Linked DNA regions of Homo sapiens. The protein of the gene in region 1 purifies or fractionates together with the protein of each later gene. This does not show direct contact. Each region holds a gene or a part of one and is shown in the gene's direction. Other genes may lie near its edges.

Region 1 (7,179 bases):
GCTACTCGGGAGGCTGAGACGGAAGAAATCGATTGAACCCAGGAGGCAGAGGTTGCGGTGAGCCGAGATTGTGCCACTGCACTCTCCGGCCTGTGAGACAGAGTGAGACTCCATCTCAAATAAACAAACAAACAAATAAATAAATAAGATAAACTGTGTTCAAGTGCTCAGGCACAGCCTGAGGGGGATGCGTGATCACTGGCCTAGGCAAAGTCCAGGCTGGGATCAGGGTTGGGGTCAACATTAGGATCGGGGGCTGGGCTTAGGGATCACAGCTCCCTCCTGGATCCAAGGGTTAAGATTCAAAGGTCTGAATGCCCCAGTTGAAGGAATGAATTCACCAGACATAGGTTGTGGAGGAAGGGCTAGCTGGATGACCAGGTCGGGAGGCAGAGGAACAGGCCTTGCCCCCCAGCTCGGCCTCTGCACCGCGGACCCATGGTCAGCAGTGGCCCATCATGTACTGGGATCGTGCAGGATTTCCACCCCGCCTTATTTATTTATTTATTTATTTATTTATTTAGAGACGGAGTCTTGCTCTGTCGCCAGGCTGGAGTGCAGTGGCGTGATCTCTGCTCACTGCAACCTCCGCCTCCTGGGTTCAAGCAATTCTTCTGCCTCAGCCTCCCGAGTAGCTGGGACGCAGGCGCTTGCCACCTGCAAGCGCCCGGCTAATTTTTTGTATTTTTTTTAGTAGAGACAGGTTTTCACTGTGTTAGCCAGGATGATCTCGATCTCCTGACCTCGTGATCTGCCCGCCTCGGCCTCCCAAAGGGCTGGGATTACAGGCGTGAGCCACCGTGCCCGTCCCCCTCCTTTTTAAAAATTATTTTTTTTATTTTGATTTAGAGACAGGGTCTCACTATGTTGCCCAGGCTGGTCTCGAACTCCTGGGCTCAAGTGATCCTCCCGTTCTGGCCTCCCAAAGTACGGGGATTACAGGTGTGAGTCACCGCGTCCAGCCCCCTTTTTAAATTTTATTATTATTTTTTATTGAAATACAATTCACATACATAAGAGTCACCCTTTTCAAACAGAGTCCGGTAGGTTTTAGTATATTCACAAGGTTGCAGCAAGCGTCACCACTATTTAATTCCAGAACATTCTCATCACCCCAAAAAGAAACCTGGTACCCATCAGCAGTCATTTCTCATTCCCCAGCCTCCAACCCCTGGCAACCATTAATCTACTTTCTGTCTATGGATTTGCCAATTCTGAATATTTCATATGAATGGAAGCATACAGTAAGTGGTCTTTTGCGTCTGACTTCTTTCGCTAAACATGCTGTTTTCTTTTTTTCTTTTTTGAGACGGATTCTCACTCTGCCGCCCAGGCTGGAGTGCAGTGGCGCGATCTCAGCTCACTGCCAGCTCCGCTTCCCGGGTTCACGCCATTCTCCTGCCTCAGCCTCCTGAGTAGCTGGGACTACAGGCGCCCGCCACCGCGCCCGGCTAATTTTTTGTATTTTTAGTAGAGACGGGGTTTCACCGTGGTCTCGATCTCCTGACCTCGTGATCCGCCCGCCTCGGCCTCCCAAAGTGCTGGGATTACAGGCGTGAGCCACCGCGCCCGGCCACATGCTGTTTTCAAGGTTCATCCACTTTGCAGCCTCCCTCTCTGTAAGCCTCGGTCCCCCCACATCTGGGAAATGGGGTGGGGACGCTGTTGGGGAAGGGAGGGCAGGGGTGGACCCTGGAGTGTGTGGGGCGCGTGTAGGGAGGTGATCGGCTGCCCCCGTGTGGTGCACGGTAGAACTGCAGCTCTCAGCGCCAATGCAGGGAACGGGTTGGGGGCGCTCAGCCCCTCTAGCCTACCCCCAAGACCCCCACTTTCACCCTGCGGCGTCCCTGGGATCACAGTACGTCTAGAACACTACCCCGGAACTCCACCCTCTCTGCCACTGTCCCTGAGGCTCCTCGGGCCATATTTGCCAAATAGTAATAATAATGTCCCCACATATGAATTTTGAATCTGGTCCCCTGTGAAGCACTTTACTCAAAGATTCTCATTTATTTGTTAGCAGTAACATTAAAATAACAAATAAATATAAACAAATTGACAAATAAAAATAGTAGCAGCCTGAGGTTGCTGCTATTATTTTTCGGAGACAGGAAACCACAGTGGTTGAGAGAGGGTCCAAGTTCTGGAACTTGGGAGCACTTGGATTCAAATTGTAGCCCTGCCACTAATTTGCCGTGTGACCTTCAGCGTGTGACGTTTCTCCCTTCCTTGGGCCTCTGTTTCCTCATCTGCAAATGGGATTGATAAAGATGCTCCCTACCTCTTGGGGTGGCAGAAAGGAGAAACTGCTCAGAGCCTGGCACAAGGGCAACTGCCATGAGTCTGTGTTGCTCATAGTATCAAGCAGTGCTGTGCTTTCACAACCAGCTTTTGGCTGAGTGCAGGGTAGTCCCAGCACTTTAGGAGGCCGAAGTGGGAGGATCGCCTGAGCCTGAGAGTTGGAGATCAGCCTGGGCAATATGGCTACAAAAAATTAGCTGGGCGTGGTGGTGCACACCTGTAGTCCCAGTGACTTGGTGGGGCTGAGCTGGGAGGATTGCTTGAGCCGGGGATGTCCAGGCTGCGGTGAGCCATAATCGTGCCACTGCACTCTAGCCTGGGTAATGCAGTGAGACCCTGTCTCAAAAACAAAACAAAGCAAAGCAAAACAAAACACCCCCAGCTCTCTGCAGGTGGGGGTGTGGAGCCTTAATTTGTAGCATTTGCCAATTTCCATGGTGTAAATATTCCCACCATGGCTAATTTCAAGCTACCAAGGTGATATCACATGGCATTTTTGCCCCCCATTATATAGTAATTTTACTGTGCAGCTACAATAGACGTAGGTAACCTCAAGATCACAGATAATGGCAAATGTAGTAAGATAACTAGGACGTGATGAGTATGTATTACTTGTACCTTTAATGTAATTTAATTGTATGTTTGCATAATTTAATTTTTAATAATGGCTGTGTTTAACAACCAGTTCCAAAATTCCTGAGACATAACAATCAGCTCGCTCCAGCCAGATCCAGCACACTGCTGTTTTAGAAGGGGAAACTGAGGCTCAGGAAAATAAGCCTCAGATAGAAGAAGGCAGGGCACAGACCCCTTCCCAAAACCATGTGACTCCCAGGCCAAGACTATGTAATGCCTGTCTTTCTTTCATCCCACCCTGGTCCACAGAGCATGGATGGTCCCCACAGCGCTGTGTGGCCTCCGAGAGGCTCTTGTCCTCTCTGGTCTCAGCCTGCCCGCATGGGGAGTGGCTGTGCCCTGCAGGCGAATACCTGCACAGGGTTCCTTCGCACCTGCCAGTGAGCAACACACGGATTCTTCCTTTCACTTTACAAACTGGGAAAGTGAAGCCCAGAAAGGGCAAGTGCTTGCCCCGGGTCATACAGGTGGACAGAGAGGGTCCCCACACCCCAGCTGGGGTGCAAAGGAGTGGATGCTGCAGCCCCAACCTGCGGGTCTGGATCTATGTGGCTGAGTGGAGGCAGCCTGACTAGGGAGGTCACTGAGCCCTCAGCAGTGGCCAAGCCCCGCACACCATCCCCTTCACCCACCCCACCCTTAGGCCTCCGAGGGGAGAGCTTCCCCCGCTCCCCCCCGCCAACTGGGGAGAGAATGGGCCAGGGGGAGGGACAATGTGGGCAGCGCCTCTGGGGTCTTCTCTGGCTCAGTCCCTTTATCTCTATCTCTTCACAGATCTCTGCGTCTCTGTATCTCTTTGTCTCTCCCTGTGTGTGTGTGGGGTCTCTCTCAGTCTTTGTCCCTCTGCGTCTCTGGGTCTCTCTGTCTCTGTCTCCCTGCGTCTCTCTCTCTCTGTCATCTGGCTCTTCCTTCATCTCCTTGCGCCTCTCCACCCTTTTGTAACTCGTCTCTCTCTCTTCGTGTCTCTCTATCTCTACGTCTCTCGATCTCTCTCTCTGCGTCTCTGGCGCTCTGCCCCGGCCTCTCTCTCCCCTTCTCTCCTCTCCAGTGCGCCTCTCGTCTCGGGCGAGAACACGCTCCCCGCCGGCGTGCCCAGACCCGCCTCCGCCCCCGGAGCCCCCGGAGCCCCCGGCGCCCCGACCAGCCCGGGCCTGCGCCTTTAAGGGCCGGCGGCGGGGGGCGGGGTCCCGGCGCCCCGCCCTGCCCGCCCCTCCCCCTGACGTCCCTTCCTCCCTCCCCAGCCCCTCCACCGCCTCCCTCCGCCGCCGCTTGGGCCGGCTCCGCGCCCCCTCCGCGGCCCCCGCCCGCCCGCCTGCCCGCCGCCCCCATGGCGCCCGGGGTCCCCGCTGCACGGGGCCACTAGGACCCTCGGCGTCCCTTCCCCTCCCCCGCCCTGCCCCCTCTCCCGCCGCGCGGACCCGGGCGTTCTCGGCGCCCAGCTTTTGAGCTCGCGTCCCCAGGCCGGCGGGGGGGGAGGGGAAGAGAGGGGACCCTGGGACCCCCGCCCCCCCCACCCGGCCGCCCCTGCCCCCCGGGACCCGGAGAAGATGTCTTCGCGGACGGTGCTGGCCCCGGGCAACGATCGGAACTCGGACACGGTGAGTGGGGCCCGGCCCCTTGGGGAGCCCTGGCTGGGTCCAGCCGCCAAACCCTTCTCCCCGTTGTACCCCTCGCCCCGCGAGCCCCTACCCTCGTTTCCTGGGCCCGACCCGGCTCGTCACCTCTCGACCCCTCCCGGACTTCCAGGCCTCTCCACCCTCCCCACCTTTTCCAGCCCAGCCCGACCCCTGGGGGCGCCCCTCTCTCGGGACCCCTCTCTTGTCCCCGTGCAGACCGCTTCCGCTCGGGTCTGTTCCCTCCAGGAAGCCCCTTCCCCTGCTTCCAGGAGCCCCTCCCTTCTCTTGCCTGTGCTAAGCCGTTTCCCCTCCAGGCCGTCCGCGTCCGACACCTCGCCCCCTCCCGGATTTGCAGGGCCCCTGACCCCCCAAGGCCCGGCCCTGGCACTCTCAGCAGGGCCTGGCCCAGTCCTGCCTCTGGCTCCGGCCTTCCCTGTCTGGGGCTGGGTGCCGGCTCCCCAGGAGCCCCCCTCCTCTTATTCCCAGCCCTCTGCCCCTCCAGGACGCACCCAGGGCGCCTGTGGGCAGCCCCTGGCAGGAAGCTGGTTTCCACCTCTCCTGGGCCCCGGCCCTTTTCTGGCTTCTTCAAGGTCTCTCCCGTCCCAGGCCTGGTCCCCATCTTCCAAGCAGCCCTGTCCCTAGATCCCAGCACCCCGGGGCCCCCAGATGCCACCTGGACCCTTTCTGGTCTCTTCCTCTCCCAGGAAGCCTTGGCCTCCAACTTCTAGGCCCTCACCTCACCCAGGCTGGTATTTCTAGGCCCTGGACCAGTCTGACTCCAGGCCTCATCCGCCCTCTATCAACTTCTCAGCTTCAGGCAGCCCCTTCCCCAACCCCCAACCTCTGGACCCCCTGCTAGGCCAAACTCAGACCCCTTCCCCACAAACCACCGTCCTTTCTCCTGCCCCAGGGCCTCCCCCTTCCTTGCTGGGAGTCTGGCCTTCCAAGGAAGCCCCCTCCTCAGCTTCAGAGGCCTTCCTCAGCTACAGGGCCTGGCCCCAGATCCTTCTTCCAGAAAACTCCTGGACCTGAAGCCTCTCGTCTTGCCCTGGTTTCAAGCCCTTTTCCCTTGGGTCAATCTGCTGGAAGCTTTCTCCCCAAATTTCTAGACCCCTTGACCTTCCCCAGGGCTCAGCCTTTATTCATCTGGGCTGCTCCTTGCCCAAGAAGTTCCTACCCCATACTTCCAGGCCCCCCAGACCCTTCTCTGGTTTCAAGGACTTCTCCTAGAAGCCCCCTTCTCTGATTCCTAGGAGCTTCCCCAAGACCCAGGGATTCCTGGCCTCTGACTTCCACTGCCCCCATGGCTTTGTCACTTTCCACCATTCCCAGGCGCCCCCTGCCCCTACACTGCTTCCCAGAGAGGCCCCTCCCCATCTCCTGTGTCTCTGATCACTGATCACTTCCAAAGACCTGCCCACCACCCAATCCTAGACTTCTCCCCACCTGGGATCTTTGTGGCTTTCTCCAAATCCTTCTGCCAGGTCCCTGTTCCCCTTCCCCCTGTTTCCCTCACCTCCGACAGACCCCCCCACACACACACACCATCAGAGAGATTTATATCTGTCCCTTCCTCATCTTGCAGATCCCTCCCTCACAGAGACCACCCCGCATCATCACTATGGGCCAGAACTCCAATTTGGAGTCTAATGAAATGCCTACCACCTCTGTTCCTTGGTCACTACAATCTACAGTGAGGTGCCAGGGGCTCCACAGTCCTGGGTTCCAATGCTGACATGGCCAGCTGGTTTGCCTTGTGTCCTCAGACAACCAGTTCTCCCTTTCTGAGCCTCAGTTTCCTGCCCTGGAAAATAGGGGTGACCGCTTGAGTGCCTCCAAGGCTTACTCGATTCAGGCGAAGGCTGGCACCTAGGAAGCACTCCACAAATGCCAGCTGCTATTGTGGCTGTGGGTATGAGTCAGACAGCCCGTGGATTCTCAGCTCAGGGCTGTTATTGGTTGTTGAGTGAGCCTGCAGATTCACTCCCAGCTTGCAGCCTCAGTTTCCTTATCTCTAAATCGGGTTGATGATGGCCCCCCACTGTTAGGGATGTTTGCAGGAGCCAGCGACGTGATGTGACTAAGGTGCACAGGGCCTGGCATGTGTCGTGGCTGTTGTGGTTATTAGCACTACTTTAATTGTTCAGATAAACTTGGGTTCACATCCTGTTTCTGTCCCTCCCTAGCTGTGTGACCTCGGGCAAGTAACCTTACCTCTCTGAGCCTTGGTTTCCTTGTCTGTTAAGTGGAACGCCTAATGAAGACTTGCTGTTCCCTGGGTTGTTAAGATGCGTGCATGGTGCGGATTTGAGGATGGCTAATCCCCTTTTCTCTCCTCCAACTCTTGTCACTAAGACCTGCCTGTCAGTCCTGGTGGGGAGTCACTTGCCTGCCTCTGGAATGGGAGGTTGCAGCCCCCTCTCCTGTTACCTGGTTACCATGGCTACAGCCACGTGGGGTCATGCTCCCCCACCCCAAGTTCCAGGGCCCCCCACCAGGGGGCCAGCCTCCCCAGGTTCCCTAGCAACAGTCCCGGGTGTTGGGGCGCCAGCCGGGCGGGAGGGAGCCAGGCCAGCTGGTGGTGCAGGCCAATTTTAGCTCCCACCCCCGGCCCCCAGGGGCTTTG
Region 2 (7,414 bases), on another chromosome or scaffold:
GTTTTGAACCAATATGACCTGTAAAGTATCAAGGTATTGCCTTTATTCCAAATCTCCACCACACACCCCACTAACCACACATTCGTTTTGTTTAACAGGCTAGTCTATTATCAGACACGGATCTCTGGGGACAACTTGGGCATCAGTTGTTTGCCTGAGGAGCAGATGGCTTTAATCATTGGAATTTCTCTTTAACTAAGATTAATGCAAGTTAAGAATTCTGAATGGGAGAAGGGAAGCCAAGACTGATTTTAGAACCTGTTGCCCTTTGGAAGAAGAAAGGTCTAGAAGGGGCATGCTATGGGGATGGAGTAGGGATGACGTTGTACAGTTAGAGGGCAGCACAGCACTGGGCTCCCAGGGCCAGAAGAGATTCAACACAGGCAGAAGGGATGGGGACCCAGATGGAAGGGAGCACCAGAAAGCACTTCACAGACTCAGTAACATTGCCAAGCTCAGCAGCACTGTGCAGTTCATTCAGCGGCACCTGCCCTGGAGAGGAGGAGAATCACTCCCTGTCACTCCAGCCTGCATAGGTTGTTTGCTGCTGGGAAAAGGGCCTAGAGGCCCCTTTGAAAAGCATTCTTATGGTCCAGTATTGCTGGTGGAGCCACTGGTTCTGGCTACGCTGTGTCTGGAGTGGAATGGAGGAAGTTCCTAGGAGGAAGGGAAGAGGCTGAAGGACCCCTGGGCACTGACAAGGGGGGATTGGGCCAACAGAGATGCCTTTCTTCTCTCTCTTCCAAGAGGCTCAGAGTCTTTCACAGTGGTGATCAATGTAACCTCACTGAAGCCCAAAGTGGACTTATAGGAAAAAGAGAGTAACAAGATAGAGGCTTTCCTCATTCACAACCACTATGCCAGCTCTTTTCCTCCGCCAAAATCTGACATGCCGAGTCAAGCCACACCCATCGCTTTCTGGTGCTGTCTGGCTCATACTCTGAATATAATTTCATTTAGTTCCTGCAAATGCACATGTCCAACATCTCTCATCTTCCATGAGCCATGTGGCATGTGGGTCAAGGAAGCCTATTCTCTCCCTTCCCAAAGCCTTGTTAGGGGAACAGCAGGCCTCTTAGTGCAACAGATGAGCAAAGCCACATCTGACCATACATTAGTAACACATAAATAAAGCTGCAAGAGAGGAGGGATGGTGTGAGTCAGGGTCCCAGGATCCACCCATTCTCAATCTCCCCCACCTTTCTCTGCGTCAGGGCTTCCAATTAGAATGCACAGAGATGCTGGCACTCACCCAACTCATTCGTTGAAAACCAACTAATGACAAGTCAACTCAGTCAAAATGGTGGGCCAGTTGAGCTTTTCGGAAGTCACATTGTTATAAATATAAACACATGTATAGCCACAGCCTTTCCCCTTTTCTAAAGACATGAAATATTGAAACATTGCAAGTACTGATCCAGGTAAATGCTCTTAGTCGTGAATGACAAAATCTCATTGAGTAGGCCTTATATGATAAGGCAAGATTAAACATGAAAATTCAGGGGAAGGTGCTGCAGAAAGGCCAAGCTAGAATCGCCCTCTGTTACTAATAACTGGGCAACTGAAATCAATGTGAATTGCAATCTAAAACTCCCTTGCAGTTTGTTTGAGTATTTTCTCTTCAAATCTCCCCCTCTGCGTGCCTTAGTTTTACAATTTAGAATTTCATATATCTAAGCTTCTAAATGGCCAAGAAAAAAGAAGTGTTATTCAACCCGATAAAACTATGCCTTTCAAACTTGAGTTCTAATTCATGATAGGGGTGGGCCACTTTCAACCCCTATCCTCTGATCTGCCACTTTTTACATGATTTCTTCTTTATTCTCCAGTTGTTTTTCTGCTTTCTCTAGGACATCACAATCACCAGCACAACTCGCCATGCATGAGGCTACTCACTCAACCAAGATGCTATATGATTTTGGCCCTCACTCAATGTACTCACACAGGGAAGTGTTTCACACACACTCACTCAGCTTTCAGTATAAGTTACATTATTAGAAACTTTTACTTCAATTGTCTGATCACTTGGAACAAAGCAAGTTTTTTGGATTTAGTTTCTTCTGGTTGACTCATAGTGAAATATGGATATGAGACACTCCCTTATATGAATAAATTAGAGGGCAGGGCTGGGGTTGGATATAAATTATTAGTTGTGTCACCTTTTACAAATGACAGCAAATGCCTTGTTTTTCCTAGACTTGACCCTACAAAAGTCAAAAGCTGCAAAACTCTATGTCACATCAGCAAACAGTCAAATCATGCCCCAACCATCATCACCAATTCTGAATTGTTCTCAAAGGCTGTCACTGTAAGTACACAAATGTAAATGCTTGTGGAATCCCTCGCTGAATATGTATAGACCACTCCCAACTACTCTGGAAGCCCTCTGAGAAGAAGAAACCTCTTGCACTTTCTATAACTAACCTTCCCTCTGCCCTACAAGGCAAGGCGCACAATAGGTATTCAATCAACAATCATTCATTGATTGACTTATTATTTTTACCAGCAGGCATGGGAGAGAAACGGAAAACGTGTTAAAACATTTTGCATTGTAAATTATCAGTTAAGAAATTAAGGCTGTGGAAAAGAATTACACTAGTGTAAGGATCACTCAGATAAAGAAAGAATTGTGGTGTGAGATTATTACTGCGCTGAAAATGCTCACTGTTCATATTTGTCAGAAAGTGACAAACATTTTCTAAAATCAAGCGTGACCAAATTGGCCTTTGTTTCCCCCATTAACACAATAAAAGGGGGTTTAGTCTTCTTCGACAGTCTATTTCGAGTGCGAGGGGTTTTCCCCCTTTTCTTGTCTTTTTGACCCTTTGAACATAATCCACTTAGTTCCCCGCTTCCTAAAGCGCCTCCCACATAGCGGTTTGGGGAGCGCTCTGTGAAGCCCCGGCTGAGACACTTATTGGAACTTTGTTCCCCACATAGGCTATTTAGGAGCGTCTCGGTTTCCTCGGGTGACTCCACAGCCTTCCTGGCTCTTCTCACGCTGCGAGCAGGAGTCAAGGGCGGTGCGGTGCTCGGAGGGGGTCCGGGGGGCGCTGACCATGGTCCTGGCCTCGGAGCTCGGGACGTGAGCGCAGAAGGCGCGGGCGGAGGCTGTAGGGAGCGGCCGTCCGAACCCCCGCCCCTCCCGACCACCGGGGAGCCGCGGGCCTTCACGCAAAGCCTCCACCGCACGCTCTGAGCCGCTCAAAAAAAGGGTGGGGCACCCAGCCGCAGCTGCAATCGGAAGCCGCCCGGGAGGGTTTCAGAAGAATGGAACCGCGGCCAACCCCCTCCCAGACGACCACCGCCCGCCCCAGCAGGGGATCAGCCCATTCCCTATGCCCACGCCCCACCTCTCAAGCTCAAGGAGACGCGGGCAGCCTTTGTGGGCGCACGGCCGCCCACCGCCCAGCCCGAGCCTCGCCGCACCCTGCGCGGAGAAGGGGCGGGTAGGGCGGGGTGCGCGTGCAGATGCGGGAGGCGAGGTCCAGGGCGGGGCATGAAGGCGGGCGCGCCGGGCTCAGGGGCGAGGGAGGGGCGATCCCCGCGCCCCGTCCTCCGTCTCCACCCCCAACCCCCACACCGACCTGGTCGTTGATGTTCTGCAGGGCTTCTTTGCCCGAGGCCCTCCGGATCTCCACCTTCCGGCCCGATTCAACAGATGGCTCTCCGCCGGCGCGCCGGCCCTGCCGCGAGTACGGCGGCTGCGGGTCCGGGCCCAAGTGGGCGACGTCCCGCTGCTGAGCCACCACCTGCCCCGAGCCCCGGCCCACCGACAGCGAGTCGAAGTCGATGGTCTTGTTCTCCGAGGACCCTTCCACCGGGCAGAACATGCCACAGAATTTCTGCCGGGGCTTGGGGCTGCCGGAGCCCAGGTTTTTAAAAAAAGCAGGGACCTCTTCGTCCTCTGCCGCCTTCCCGGATTGCTTTCTCTCGGCCATGGCTCGGGGGCTCGGGTAGGGTCCTCGCCGTCCGTCCGTCCGTCTGCCAGTCCCTAAGTCTCCCTCGCTGTGTGCACAAGCCCCCTAGCTGCTGCCGCGGCTGCCGTTCGCCGCCCACCGCAAGGTGCACAGAAAGGAAGGAGGGCTGGCGAGCCGGCGACCCACCCTCCCGGTCCCTCCCCCTGACCCCGCTTCTCCCCTCCCTGCCCACGCCCCCCGCGGCTACAGCGCGAGCTCGGGGAAGCGGCAAAGTTGGATCTGGGAGGGCGTCCGCTGCGGCTGCGGGAGCCGAAAGGCTGCCAGTTCCCGGCAGCGCTGGGAGGAGGGAGGCGCGGGCGGGGCGCGGCGCCGGGGAGGGGAGCGGTGCTCAGGGGAGGGCTGGAGGGGAGGGAAGGAGAGAGAGAGGGGAGGGCGGCACCGCCCCTAGCCCCGCGCTCCGGAAGTGAAGCGGCCAGACCACCAGCTAATGGATGCGGAGCGGAGGGCCCGCTGACCGCTCTCCGCGCCTGGGTAAGTATCGGGCAGGGCACGCGGAGTGAGGACCGGAGGACGCAGCCCCCAGCCCCAGTGCCCCTCTCCTCCACCTGCCTGGCCCAGGCGCCTCTGCCCCGCCGCATGGCGGAGGTGGGCCGGGGGCGAGGGCGCACTGTGGATAGGGGTCCCGCCCCGTTACCCTGGGTGTGAGCTGATGGATGGGAAAAGGGGACAAGCCGGGCGCCAGGCTACTCAGGGTGTGGGAAGCGGGATGGCACTGAAGATGAGCAAGGATAGCACAGGCAGGGTGGACAGGAGGGGGGCAGCCAAGACGCTGGACACCCCAGCTTCAGTTTGTCCACTCGCCTTGGCAGGCTGCAGGGAGCAGAGACTGAAACGAGAAGGTTCCCGCTTCGTGCATCCACTTTGGTGTGGTTGGGGTGACGGGGGAGTGGGGGGGGGGCACACAACATGGCGGGAAGAAATTCAGAGGGGCGTAGCAGATGGGAGAGGAATATAGAGAGAGACGCAGGTCTGCGGTCTATGGGGGTGTAGCAAAGAGTGCAGTCGGGAATTCCAGCCCAGGGCCACGACTTAAAGACGGGGTGCAGACCGACTCTATTGCGCAAGGCGCCATGGACCGTGTCTGCGCCACTGCGCCAAGAAGGGCGCAGGAACGTGTCGCGATTTGGTTTATTCTGCTTCCTCCACCAAAAAAAAAAAAAAAAAAAAAAAAAGAGAGAAAAAACAAACTGAAACCCCCTTCCCAAATCTCCAGCTTTCCCCTGCGCCCCAGAGCCCCGCCTGGTTCCCCCGCCCCTGTTGCGCACTGCGCCACAGTCGCAGCGTTTCCCGGGTTACCAGATGCCACGTGTTTGGGGAGTAAGTGCGGGTGCGCATCTGGTGCGGAGTAGGAGGTAGGATGTGGGCTGTGAGTGCCATGAATTGTGTGGGGCCAAGCAGGGGAAAGGTGTGTAGGAACTTGGTGTGTGTGTGCAGTAGCTGAGCCACGGCCACCGGGTTGGTAAGTAACCAGGGGGCAATTAGATTTGTGTGCCTAACACGGTCAATGCTGGTCCTTCATTGCTTATTCCCATCTCCACGTCCTTTCCGCGTATCAGTCCCTGCCTCTGCGCGATGACAGCTCCGCCTCTCTTTCCACAGTGGCAAAATCCTGCAGAAATGGTGCCCCTCCTTTGGTGGCCCGGGAGGGAGTTCTGGGCATGCTCAGTAACCAGGGTGGGTTTGGGCTGAGAGGCCGTTTACCGCAGGGCCACCGCGTAGGGCCGTGTAACCAGGGATCCAGTCCCATTGTCAGCCCAGGATTAAATGCGGTTACCAACCACCCCCACAGTCCAATTGTGAGAGATAGTTTGGTGAATATAGTTACATCTGCTGGACAATCAGTCGCAATTTGAAGATCAGCCCATCTTGATAGGTGGAAAGGCGTCTCCGGATGAGAAACAGACTGGGGAAGAAGAATATAGGAGTGGAGGGGCTGAGAGAACCGGAGGGGGCATTTTGGACTTAGCGGCAGATGTGCTTTGCATTTGAATAAAGCATTTGAAAAAAGCGCTTCCAACTGAATTACATCATTTCCTACTCACAGCCCCACTGTGAGATGCGTGCCTTATCAGCACTGCTTTCCAGGTTAGGAAACAGATTTAGAGAGCTTGGGGCGCATAGCCAAGGTTGGGTATTTAGTTAAATGATCCAGCAATTCCAGTGGGAGTCTTCCACCTCAAAGTCTGGCTTCTTTTCCAGCTTGTCCTGTGACCCCCTTTATGTGAGAAAATACAAGGTTCTTCTATTTCTACCGTATCCAGATATTTCCATCCATGGCCCTATTGTATATCAAGGGTGTTTCTTGCCATGTTTTTATTTGAAGGTAACACTGCAGGTCACACTGGGAGGAAGAGTCATCTGAAGATAGCCTAACTTCAGCATAGCAGTCATTCTGTAGACCATAGAGATGCTTTTTCCTGGGCAGTGTCTTTTTACATTCCCTGTTTCCTCTAAATATCCCAGTGGGGAGGAAGGTTGCCCCCAGCTGGTTTTTTTATTTTTGTTTTTGTTTTCAGACAGAGTCTCACACTGTCACCCAGGCTGGAATGCAATGGTGCAAACGCAACTCACTGTAGCCTTGACCCACTCGGCTCAAGCAGTCCTCCCTCCTCAGCCTCCCAAGTAGTTGGGACTACAGGCGAGTGCCACACGCCCAGCTAATTTTTTTATTTTTCCTTTTTGTAGAGACAGGGTCGCACTATGTTGCTGGTCTCAAACTCCTGGGCTCAAGTGATCCTCCCGCTTTGGCCTCCCAAAGTGCTGGGTTTACAGGTGTAAGCCACTGCACCTGGCCCTCCCCCACAGTCCCCACATTTTAGAAAGGAAAAGTCAGGCATGGAGAAGTCAGCAGTCTCAGGTCTCTGGGGCTCCTGGGCACAGGGGTGAAGCAGCATTTTGCCCTCCTGGCTCTCTGGCACCCCTGGTGCCTTCAGCACTTCCCAGAAGACTCAGGAGATCTTCCCACAGCAGGAGCACTGCTGATAGAGTTACAGGACAGCACTGTGGCGTATGGCCCCCATTCGAATTGATGAAGATGTTTAGGCCAAGGGGGAAATGGTTGTAGCCCCTTAACACACACTCCGCAGCAGTAACTGGGAGGTATTAGGAACTCTAACTTTTTTTTTTTTTTTTTTTGAGACAGAGTCTTGCTCTGTTACTCAGGTTAGAGTGCAGTGGTGCAATCGTGGCTCACTGCAACTTCCGTCTCCCAGGTTTAAGCGATTCTCCTGCCTCAGCCTCCCAAGTAGCTGGGATTACAGGCACGTGCCACCACACCCAGATAATTTTTGTATTTTTGGTAGAGACGGGGTTTGGCCATGTTGGCCAGGCTGGTTTCGAATTCCTGACCTCAGTGATCTACCCGCCTTGGCTTCCCAAAGTGCTGGGATTACAGGCATGAGTCACCACGCCTGGCCAACTCTAACTTTTTTACG

Evidence for each region. Proteins that work in one complex are often made in the same cells at the same time.
Region 2: the proteins of MARK4 (region 1) and PNMA2 purify together in Homo sapiens (co-immunoprecipitation; 3 studies listed by BioGRID and IntAct, with this or other methods). This does not show direct contact.

Annotation. Positions count from the first base shown.
Region 1 is NC_000019.10:45,247,105-45,254,283, forward strand, and holds the start of MARK4 (MAP/microtubule affinity-regulating kinase 4), read left to right. Parts: upstream 1-4,166; 5' UTR 4,167-4,484; coding exon 4,485-4,535; intron 4,536-7,179. UniProt on the Homo sapiens protein: Serine/threonine-protein kinase. Phosphorylates the microtubule-associated protein MAPT/TAU. Also phosphorylates the microtubule-associated proteins MAP2 and MAP4.
Region 2 is NC_000008.11:26,510,853-26,518,266, reverse strand, and holds the start of PNMA2 (paraneoplastic antigen Ma2), read left to right. Parts: upstream 1-4,394; 5' UTR 4,395-4,451; exon of another isoform or gene 4,452-5,439; intron 5,440-7,414. Other genes in the region: DPYSL2 (dihydropyrimidinase-related protein 2), read right to left, coding at 3,588-3,941.